2 separate regions of the Homo sapiens genome follow, and region 2 is reported to be linked to region 1. The links are microRNA targets in miRTarBase. Many come from high-throughput screens and were not tested one by one. Region 1 holds a microRNA gene; the other region holds the end of a gene's coding sequence.
The links. Region 1 holds the annotated microRNA hsa-miR-3139 (UAGGAGCUCAACAGAUGCCUGUU, at 3,273-3,295, shown strand). A microRNA usually pairs through its seed, bases 2 to 8, with sites in the 3' UTR of a target mRNA and lowers its output. Matches are read on the target gene's strand: a 7mer-m8 pairs with bases 2 to 8, a 7mer-A1 pairs with bases 2 to 7 and ends in A, and an 8mer does both.

Region 1 (5,377 bases):
TGCTTGTTTTTTTTATGTAGAATGTTTATTTTTCTGGATAAAGGAAACATTGTTGGCCACCCAGTAGGCAAAATGTTTGTGGATAATGATTTGTAATGAATGGATTTGCTATGAAAAGATATCTTGGATGCTTGATACTATAATTATTAAATGAGACTTCAGGGAGTTTGAGCATCATGATTCTGTTTGGAAATATTTGGCCCATGGGACTTTGACAGTTGTCTCACTGTTTACAGCATTTATAGGGTAGTCCGAACACTGATTAAGATGATCCATAAGGGCTTTTAAGTGACAAAAAAATTGTTTTAGTTTTTTTTAATTAATTTTTTTTTGAGATGGAGTCTTGCTCTGTCACCCAGACTGGAGTGCAGTGGCACTATCTCGGCTCACTGCAACCTCTGCCTCCCAGATACAAGCAGTTCTTCTGCCTCAGCCTCCCCAGTAGCTGGGATTATAGGCATCCCCCTCCACACCCAGCTAATTTTTGTATTTTCAGTAGAGATGGGATTTCGCCAGGCTGGTCTCAAACTCCTGACCTCAGGTGATCCACCCACCTCAGCCTCCCAAAGTCCTGGGATTACAGGCATGAGCCACCACGCCTGGCCTTAAATTGTTTTAGTTTTAGCTTTAAAGCCATCTCATATATGGCCCCCAATGTATTCCATTTACAGCTCCGTTTTATGTTTACTGTTTCATAGTCAACTCAAGCAGGATTGTTTTTTGTACACGCTAGTGTGTTAGTCTGATGTGTAAGCTTTTCTTGAATTTTCTAAAGAATGACACACAAAAAAATGAAAGTCAAGAGTAGTCAGCAGATTCCCCAGCTTTTCCTTCTCTTTTTAATTTTTTCTATATTCGCAAAAGGTTCTTTCTTGTATGTGTTTCATTCTCCTGGAAGTTTTTAAAATCTACTTAAAATGTAGGTGAAAATTTTAATGCTTCTTTTCAGGGTTGCTACTGTGGTGTTGCTGTTTTCATGCTGTGTTATATATTAAACAGCTGCTTTTTTACTTTGTTAAGGACCTGATGGAATCATAAACAGATTACTGTCACTAGGATTACAGAAAACAAGTAAAGTCTTGGTAGTATGCACTCAACAATGGTGCTCAGATTTTTAAAGAATTATTTAAAGAAATGATGGTGAAATTTTCATCAGAACCTGAAATTTTAGCTGAAATAAGATGCAAGTCTGTAAATAAAGTATTGTTTCAAGACAGCTGGCTACCACCATCGCTCTGGAGGAGGAGCTTCCTTGCCTGAAGCCCAAACACTAAGTTTGGGCTCCTCCATAGCCCAGCTGTCAGCATTGGGCAGGTGCACAATCTCAGCAGGAGAACCTGCTTCTGAGGCCAGAGCAAGGTGGCCTGTTAGCTGACAGCCAGCCTGGTAGCAAGGCCCCAGCCAGTTCTTAGGTAGGTAATCTGTACCCAGCGTGGGCTCTCTGTCTGCTCTGCAGCTGTCAATTAACAGGACAACTCTTGTCTGGACTTCAAAAACACACCCCTGGTTCTGGAAATGGGCCTAGAAACAGAAATAGCCTCTCCTACTGGGTGGGCACCTGACATCTGACATGGAGGAGAGGGGCGTGGGCAGGCCAAGTGTCAGCATCTCCTTGGTTCAAGGACAACCCAGGACCTGTGCTAAGCATGAAACCCCTGCTCAATAGTGTCACTACAACAAAGAGGACTGTCATGTCTAGAAGCTCTTCCTATCCTTTTTTGACAATTACCACTAGCAATCAATGGATTCTGATGTTTCTGCTTACAGTGACTGAATAAGCATAATTATTCTATTGAAGGAAATTTTTTCTTGCCATCCTCATGTTAGTAAACATAATTCAGACTCCCAATGTTTTTACCTTTTCAAGTGTAGCAAGAATGTTTTTTCTGTTAACAGAGATCATCAACTTGCAATTACATTAAGCCTTTATGATGGTTAATGATAGTTCATTTGTTGTGCCTGGGCTGAATGATAAGTGTAGAACTCTCCACGTGCAACTTGCTGAATCTCCAAATCTGATTGCTACCTTTTGAGATTCAGAATTACTGTTAGGAAGGTGCATTAGTTTGGAGGGGGTAGTTTGAGAATTCTGCTGGCTCTTTAAAATTATTTTTTTAAGAGATCATCTTGGAACAAAAAGTGGCAAGAGTTATAGTTGGATAATCTGTTTGACAAGTGACTGGTTATTTCAGTGTATTTTGCCATAACCTGCTTAAAAATGTAAGGAGTAAAACACACAGCGTTTTTTGAGAGTAAGTAAAATCCCATATTTTAGACTTAACATAAAAATATGTAGATAAGCTATTGACAATTTGCAGACTGAGAAAGTTTCAGAGGTGATAGATTCTTTTTTTTTTTTTTTTTTTTTTTTTTTGAGATGGAGTTTCGCTCTTGTCCAGGCTGGAGTACAATGGCATGATCTTGGCTCATGGCTCACTGCAACCTCCATCTCCCGGATTTAACTGATTCTCCTGCCTCAACCTCCCAAGTAGCTGGGATTACAGGCTCCTGCCACCACGCCCGGCAAATTTTTTTTTTGTATTTTTAGTAGAGATGGGGTTTTGCCATGTTGGCCAGGCTGGTCTCGAACTCCTGACCTCAGGTGATCCGCCCGCCTCAGCCTCCCAAAGTGCTGGGATTACAGGTGTGAGCCACCGTGCCCAGCCAGAGGTGATAGATTCAAAACATGTGTTAGGTACTCAGCAGTCCTAATTTTCTTACAGAGACTGACAGCCAGAAGGAGCATTGTAGTAGATGGGCTACTACTTTACTTTTGAAGAATTTTGTATTAAAATGTAATTTGATGCACCCACTGATGCTTTTAGTGGGGATGTTTTGCTATAGTGGAAGGAAACTCAGACTGAGTGTCAGGACCCGGATTCTACTTGGTTTTGCCATTACCCACCCACAGGAGCATTTGACCATTCTGATCCTCAGTTTCCTTACCTGTAAAATGGGGGAGGGAGGAGCTGTAGATCTTCAGCAGAAGCCCTGTTGCAGTTTAGCGTTCCTCTTCTCAGACATTTTCTTGGGTGGAAGGGACAAATGGGGAGCTCTTCAATAAGCTGCAACATAAATTTTTGGGGGACATAAATCTTCCTTGTGGGGAAATCTTTACTATTTATCTTAAATAGTTTAGTGACTGCTTAAGCAGTATTCTTTGGGGACTCTTGGTTTTTAACTGAAGGCAGACCTGCATGCAGGGCCTTTGGCTGCTGTGCTCCTGGGCTGGGTGCTGTGTCTTGAGCCCCTGTGCAATGCCTGGCTCAGAGTAGGAGCTCAACAGATGCCTGTTGACTGAATAATAAACAGGTATCGCAGGAGCTTTTGTTATGTGCCATGTGTGGAATGCAAGGAAGGAAAGGCCCACTCTCTGCCCTTAAGGAGTTTCTAATCTGTTTGTGAAGACAAGCTGTCAGTCATTTTATAGGAGCTATGATATATGATTAGTTGCCAAATGAAAGTTTAGAGTGAGAACAGGGGATGCAGGGGTACGAGATGCCAGGGAAGACTCCGCAAATGAATTTTACACTTTGCTTTTAGAAGAGCTGGTGTACTGCTGGCAGCAACAGCAAAATCTTAAGGGAGGGCTGGTTTTAAAGGAAGAACAAAGATTTGTGTTGAGTTTAGATGTCCTCATGAAAAAAACTGCTTCCCAGCACCCCAGTTTCATGTGAGGAGTTTGGCTGTCAGCTGTATCTTCTAGTTTGAGAAGTTTTTGTTTCTGCTAAGATCTAATGTTCCTCATGGGTTCCTGAGCACAAGTGAATTTTCTGCATCAAACTAGAAATGAACAAAACAACTTGTTTGGTCACCTGAACTTATTAAAATTCCAAGGGACATGAGTTGTTTAAGATTTCTTTATGTCTGTTTTAAGCTAAGTAATTCATTCTGGCAAGCAGTTAGTTTACAACAGAGAGGGAGCATGTTCTGGTGGGAGGGAGAATAAAAGAGCCTTTGATTCATTTGCTTCTGAGTTCCAGCAGCAGGACCAGGGCTGCCTTGGGCTAGCGTCTTATTTCGGACTTTGGAAGCCATCTTAGCCCAGCTGTGTGAGTGCCAGCTCGTGTTGGGGGGGAGAGAATAACACCAACGGATCACATGAAACCCCCTCTCCCTGTGGATGGAGGGGTTTCTCTCATTTCACATTCCTCGCATCAACATGGCGCCTAATTTCCACCAAGTTAGAGCTCCATCTGAATTTGCCATTTGAACTTGGATTGAAGTCACGATCTTTCTGTGACTCCTTTTATCTCAGTCTGCCAACTAATACAGAAAACTTATCAAGTCACAGTTCTCTTTATTCTCCCCTCTTGGGGTATAACACACATAAAATTAGCATTCTTTCTTTTTTATATTACCCCTGGCAAAAAGTGGCCCATTGTACTGTGGATTTCCATATTTATTAAATAACTAGGCTCTTCCGTTGCCAGTGGGATGGCTATAGGAGCCTCAATAAATTGTAGATGACAATTTAGGCCTGTAGAATTGCTGAGAAAAGTCATTTTTAGGAACTGGAATTTTTTGCTCATTCTAGGCTTCTATGTTTGAGCATCTTAAATAATAGAAGAATGCCCTAACTGGAAAAAAGAATCATTTCTCTTTTAAGCAATTCACTTATTCATAGGAGCGAAGTTCTCCCTAGTTTAAAAGGTCGCATTACTGAATAAAGTACACTATAACCTAAGAGCTTTTGACCTTCTCCCAGCCCGTTTTTAAAAAGAATTAAGACTATGCACTGTAATGCATGTTTGGTTGTTATCTCTGTTACATTAGCTCTTGAAGCATTCTGATTACAACTTGTAGCTGCCAAGCCCTGTCCTGCAGTATTATCTGGAACAAAAATTTTCCATGTGGTTGTTTTTAGCAGAGCTACTATATGCAAACTGCACGTGAAGGATATAAGTTATAAAGGAATAGAGCTTCTAGAAGGAGAAATGTGAGTTAACTTTTTTCTACCATTTAATCATTCTTTCCTCACCTCTTAGTGTGTGTTTCAATAATGTTTATCATCTTTCTAAACTGAGTTTTCTTTTATTTTTATATATTAGAAAGAATGCCAAATTTACCAAGTGCTTTTCTGATGGTGGTTTTCTTTTCTCCCAGCTTTTTACTTTGAATTCATACTTGGCCTAGGTAGTTCTCTTAAGTTATGTGTTCAAAAAACAATGTCCTAAGAGGAAAAAACAAATGGCCACATTGTCTCATGAATTAAAAACAACATACCAAGAGTCCAAACATTTCAATGTAAAAATATTAAGCCTTTCTTTTTTTAGGAAGACAAATATTAAACTTTGCTTTAACTATCCTGTTGTTTTTCCTTTCCCTTTTTTATTTATTTTCTTTTGGTTTGACTCATGTAGTTTAAATTTATTTT
Region 2 (5,377 bases), not on the chromosome of region 1:
GGTCACTGCCAGGCACTCTCTACTGGGTGCTTTTAAAATACAATCTCATTTACTTTCCATAGTAGCTTTGTGTGGTTTATACTATCCCCATTTTCGAGATGAGAATACAAAACTCAGTTCAGTTCACTTAGCCAGAAAAGAACAGAGAGCATGTGAACCCAGTTGATCTAACCTTTTCAACTTTCTCTCTAGCCTGGGCCTGACGAAGCCATCAGGCCTAACACATCCTCTGCCTGCAAAATGGCTAAAAGTTCCAGCCAAAGTGACCTGGCTTTTCTAAAGTCTGTTCTGTGTGATCCCACAGCTCCTCATTCCTCAAACACTCCCTCCTTTACCAGGCTCCTCTGCCCTTTCATTTGTACTCCTTGCAGGGAAGCCTACATTCCCATGAATCAGGACTTCTGTGCTGAGCTGTGTCATAGTGATACCATGATCCCCGCCGAGGTAGGTATGAGGAGGAGCCAGTTTTGTCCCCAGTATGAACATTTCTGGAATGGGCCTATTCAGACTTCTACCAACTACATATTTCAGGCATTTAGTCATGAAGTCCGTGAAATAGTATAATCTTTTTTTTTTTCTTTTCCTTGAGACAGGGTCTCGCTCTATCATCAAGGCTGGAGCGTGCAGTGGCATGATCTCGGCTCACTGCAACCTCCGCCTCCCAGGCTGAAGCCATCCTCCCACCTCAGCCTCCCAAGTAGCTTGGACCACAGCCACTCACCACCATGCGTGGCTAATTTTTATGTTTTTTTTTTTTTAGTAACGGTCTTTCCCCATGTTGCCCAGGTTGATTCAAACTCCTGAGCACAAGCGATCCACCTGCCTCGGCCTCCCAAAGTGCTGGGATTACTGGCATGAGCTGAATAATCTTGTTTATACAATTACACAGTTATATTGGCAAATATCTATGATGTAGTAATTTTTCAAGCACTCAGAACTTGATGCTGGCCAGGTGTGGTGGCTCATGCCTGCAATCCCAGCACTTTGGGAGGCCAAGGTGGGAGAATTGCTTGAGCTCAAGAGTTTGAAACCAGCCCGGACAACATGGCGAAACCCGTCTCTACAAAAAATAGAAAAATTAGCTGGGTGTGGTGGCACACACCTGTAGTCCTGCTACTCAGGAGGCTGAAGTGGGAGGATCATGGAGCCCAGGGAGGTCAGGGCTGCAGTGAGCCATGATCATGCACTCCAGCCTGGGCGACAGAGTGAGACCCTGCCTTAAAAACACCTGAAAAACAAAAAGCCCTGAAACCCAAAACCAAAAAAACCAACTGGCTGCTACTACCCACATATTCTAATGATATTTGGAGTTTGAAAAAACCTGGGATTGGCAGAGTCGGCAAAAATGGGTGTAGACGAGTTTCCCAATCTCAGGACTACTGACATTTGGGGCTGGATGATTCTTTGTTGTGGGGGGCTGTCCTGTGCATTGTAGGATATTGATCAGTATCCCTGGCTTCACTCACTACATGCCAGTAGCTTTGTGACAACCAAAAACATTTCTAGACATTGTCAGATGTCCCCTGGTGAGGAAAAATCAGGCCTAGTTAAGAACCACTGATACCTCTGATCCCGCAGGGCTGATCTATATAAAGTGCAAATGAAGCCACCATCTTCCTCTCCTCCTACAGGGAACTTGTGAATCTTTCCTCAATCCCATACCCTTGGGAACCATCTCACAGAGCTGATGCCACTTGGCTTGGGAAGTGGGGTGGAAGTGAGGGGGAGAGAAGGAGCAGGTGGAATAGAAGCAGCAAGAAAAGACAATGGAAAAGCTTCTAGAAATAAGAAAGGTTTATTTAGCAAAAGCCACTAGACTAGTGACAACATCCAGGGAGTAAGTGCACTTACATTAACAGAATCTTTTCCCAGAGAGTTGATCCAACAGAGTTAATGACACAACAGCTTTAGGAAGTAGAGTGCTAGTGGGTAGAGGGTTAGGAGGAAGCAGTCAAGCAAAGAGTAAATAAAAGGAATACAACGCCTAAACAAGATCAGTTGAGAGAAATGAGGCTAGGAAGAGGTTTTACAGAGAGAGCATTGATATAAGCAGGAATATAAGGAATATAATTTTTAATCTCAATATACAGTCCATCCAGTGCAGAGAAATTCTTTCCTGGCTCCATAACTGTGGGAGCCTCCTGTGCACGAGAGTCTGCTGGCACCTGGGGTAGGCTGGGGCAGGCACCAATAAGGTTAGCACCCCTGGTGTCCATTTGTCCTCCATATAGGGCAGAGTAGAAGAATGAAAAAGAGGAAGGCAGAGTTGAGTTAGCAGAGCAAGAAGCAAGGAGGGAGGACAGGGTGACATCGTCGGGAAATCAGGTCTGCAATGTTCCCTTTCCTGCCCAGTTGGCCCTGATGGAGGGTCGGTGGCTGGTGATCCTTCAAGGCTCCTAGATCTGTCCTTTGTCTCCCATCTCCACACACCAAGTATGCGCTGGTTTGGGTCCACTGGGGAGGATACCAATACACAAACTAGTCCTCCAGGGAGGGCCTGAACTGGGGAAAGGGTGGCGCCCAGGCAGGAAGAAACCACCATGGAACACCCCAAGGGCAGGAGTCTTGGATGGGTCCCAAAGTCAGCAACACAGATAACTAGTTTCTCCAATTCTTTAATTTCTCCATTTCCTTTCGTCTATCCAATCTCAAGTTTTTACAGGCCATTTAGAAGCGGCCTTCCTCACCCACTCCCTGGCCACATCCCACACAAGCCCTCTCCATCCACATTCCATACACCTAATCCACTGGCCTCTGGCTTTATCCTCAGCTCCGGCTTACGTCAGAAAACAGACTTTTCACTCCTCTGGACGTTCAAAATCTTAATAATCTAAGTGGTCTTGGACTCAGGGAACCCTGGGTTAGATTTCATAAGCTAGGTAGGCTCAGCCACACTGGATTCTGACAGCTGCTCATTTAGTTTCATGGATCTCACTTTCCTGGTTCTTCCTTCTCTGTGTAACTGTACCTATTTCCAATGGCAAATTAGATCAAAACAAAACAAACAGAACCATGCCTCTCCAACTAAATGCATGTTAGAAAACACAAATCTGTTGCTGATTCAAACACCCTGGAGATCCTCGTTCTTTTCCGTCTGGTTACAATCCTACATATATGTACACACTTTCCCTCACACATGTATATATAAACACATGTGTACACACACACACAAAACACACACACACACACCACCTGATCCTATTTCCACTGACACCCTGATGCACCAAGGAAGGCTAACATAAAACTGAATTTATTTCCTTTAATTTGGACTTTCTGGGCTACAAGAAAACCAACTGTGGCCATTAGAAGAGGACTGCACTTTTATTTATATATAATCTAAAGGAAAGCTAGGGTCGATGAACTCCATTTTGGGATAATCATATCCTTGCCGATTGACCCTCCAATAACACTGCAGTTTGCATCTGTACCTTGTTGTCTAGGATAAAGACTTAATTCCCCGAACATATGACTCTAGCAGGTCTCAGCAATCTCTTCAGGCATTTGAAAATCTGTTAACAGCCACTTATGGCCTTACAGGAGCAAAGGAGCTTTTCCTCATTGCCCCAGCCAGCCCGTTAAGGAGTAGTGATCCCTAGGCAAAGCCTAGATCATAAAAGATAAGACAATTGCACATGGCACTTTTTATATGTGTGCTCAAGGCACGCACGCAGAGAGATGGGCCAAGGGTGGCAATGGCTGTGGTCCCTGACCCAAGTGGCAGTGATTCAGAAGAGTGGACAAAAACAGTCTCACAGTCTCAGCTATCAGCTTGCATTCATTCTTTTTTTTCTTTCTCTTTTTTCTTTTTTTTTTTTTGCAGTAAAAACTGACCACCACTGCCCAGTGGAGGGGACAGGTTGAGAGGTAAGGCTGGGGGCTCTGGTCCTCTGGGGCTTTCAGAGAGGTAAAGTGCTGCAAAAGCTTCAGCTGGACAGGACACAGGGGAGGTGAGGGGCAATTCCCAGCTTCCATTTAGATGGGCTGGGCTACAGGCAGGAGGAAGGCAGGGCAGGACTTTCAAAACAGGAATCAGATCTAAGTGATTTGGAGCAGCAGACAAGCTGTCCTCCCCCTGGGCTCTCACACCAAGGGCCTGAACCATGTTAAAGCTTCAAGGCTCCCTTTGTAGCAACATTCAATGTCCGGCTGGAGAAAATGTTTGGATTCAGTTCCTCTAAAAGCTTATCCACTGTGACACATTCCAATTCCATGCTCACCCTACAAGGACTAGCCTGGCTTTTGCGGTCCAGAGCACTCAATCTCTACAATCTCAGCAAGGGCCTGGAGAAGGAATTCCTCTCATAAAGGTAGGGGGAGGGTTAGGCAACTCGCAGCATCGTGATATCCAGAAACAAAGTACCTGAGAAGGTACCGATGGCTTCCCTTCCTGGTCGGGACCATGGAGACGGGGAGAGTGAGGGGGTAGGGGGGCATCACGGACAAAGCGTGGGAGCCTGACGATGCAGCAGGTAGGGGCAGGTCCTCCAGCAGCCTGGCAGTCCTGGAGAGAGACCCTCTCCTGAAGCCATGGGCTCTGGAAGGCCTTACCTCCACCACCCTCTAGTCACAAGTAGGAGAGGAGCTGATTCACCTCTGGGAATCCGATTTCTTCCCCACTTTACCCTCCAAAGCAGAATCTCAATACTTTCCTGAAACCTCACACTCTCCCGGGCCCTGGCTGGCATTCTCCTCGGCAGTGCACATTCACTGGGCATCCCCTACCCGGGCAGCAGCCAGACACGGCCCCTCCAGCCACGCCGCCGCCTCCATCTCCTCGCCCTCGGCACCTACACGGCGATCTCATCATCCAGGCCGTCGCCCAGTTCCTGCCTCTGCAGGACATTCAGCAGGCGCGGCAGCTCCTCCTGGGACCACGAGTCGCGCTCCTCGCTCTCGTCCGTGTTGGACTCGTACTCCGAGGCGATGCCTGACTCTCGGAACTTGATGAGCTCCAGACCGCCCAGGAGCGCCTCGCCCTGCGCTGGGGGCGGGGTGTCCTCGGGCGGAAGAAAGCGAAAGCACTCCAGCTTCACCAAGCAGTCGCGCCTACCTAAGGGGCTGCCCGCAGGGTGGGCAAAGTCAGCCAAGCCCGCGCCCAGCGGCGGCGAATGCAGGTCCTCTGGCTTAGGGGTCGTGGGGTCACAGAGCACGGGCAGGGCTCCGGAGCGGAAGGTGATCTCCAGCAAGCTGTCCTGGGAGCCCACTGCAGGGGAGACAAGAGGTAGCAGAGGGGCAGCGTTAGGCAAGGTTGTTGATTTGGGATGCCCGCCTTCTGCCCGCCCGTGCCCTGCCAAAGCCCTTCCCAGACCAGCTTAGCAGCACCTCTCCGGGCTTTGGGTCTCTTAACACTTCACCCTTCCTCCCGCCCCCACATAGC

Region 2: miRTarBase lists NOS1AP as a target of hsa-miR-3139. Seed matches in the 3' UTR shown: 7mer-m8 at 4,578-4,584 and 7mer-m8 at 3,544-3,550.

What each region holds. Positions count from the first base shown.
Region 1 is chr4:143,340,197-143,345,573 of GRCh38, forward strand. MIR3139 (microRNA 3139) reads left to right here and starts at 3,264; the gene lies at 3,264-3,339. The region is part of intron 1 of GAB1 (GRB2 associated binding protein 1); the gene reads left to right.
Region 2 is chr1:162,366,878-162,372,254 of GRCh38, reverse strand. It overlaps NOS1AP (nitric oxide synthase 1 adaptor protein), which reads right to left. Exons shown (of 10, transcript NM_014697.3): 10 at 1,780-5,203. The coding sequence ends at 4,788. Among named protein-coding and RNA genes, the nearest start is that of SPATA46, 7.3 kb to the left of the region's middle. RefSeq lists an enhancer at 4,553-5,052.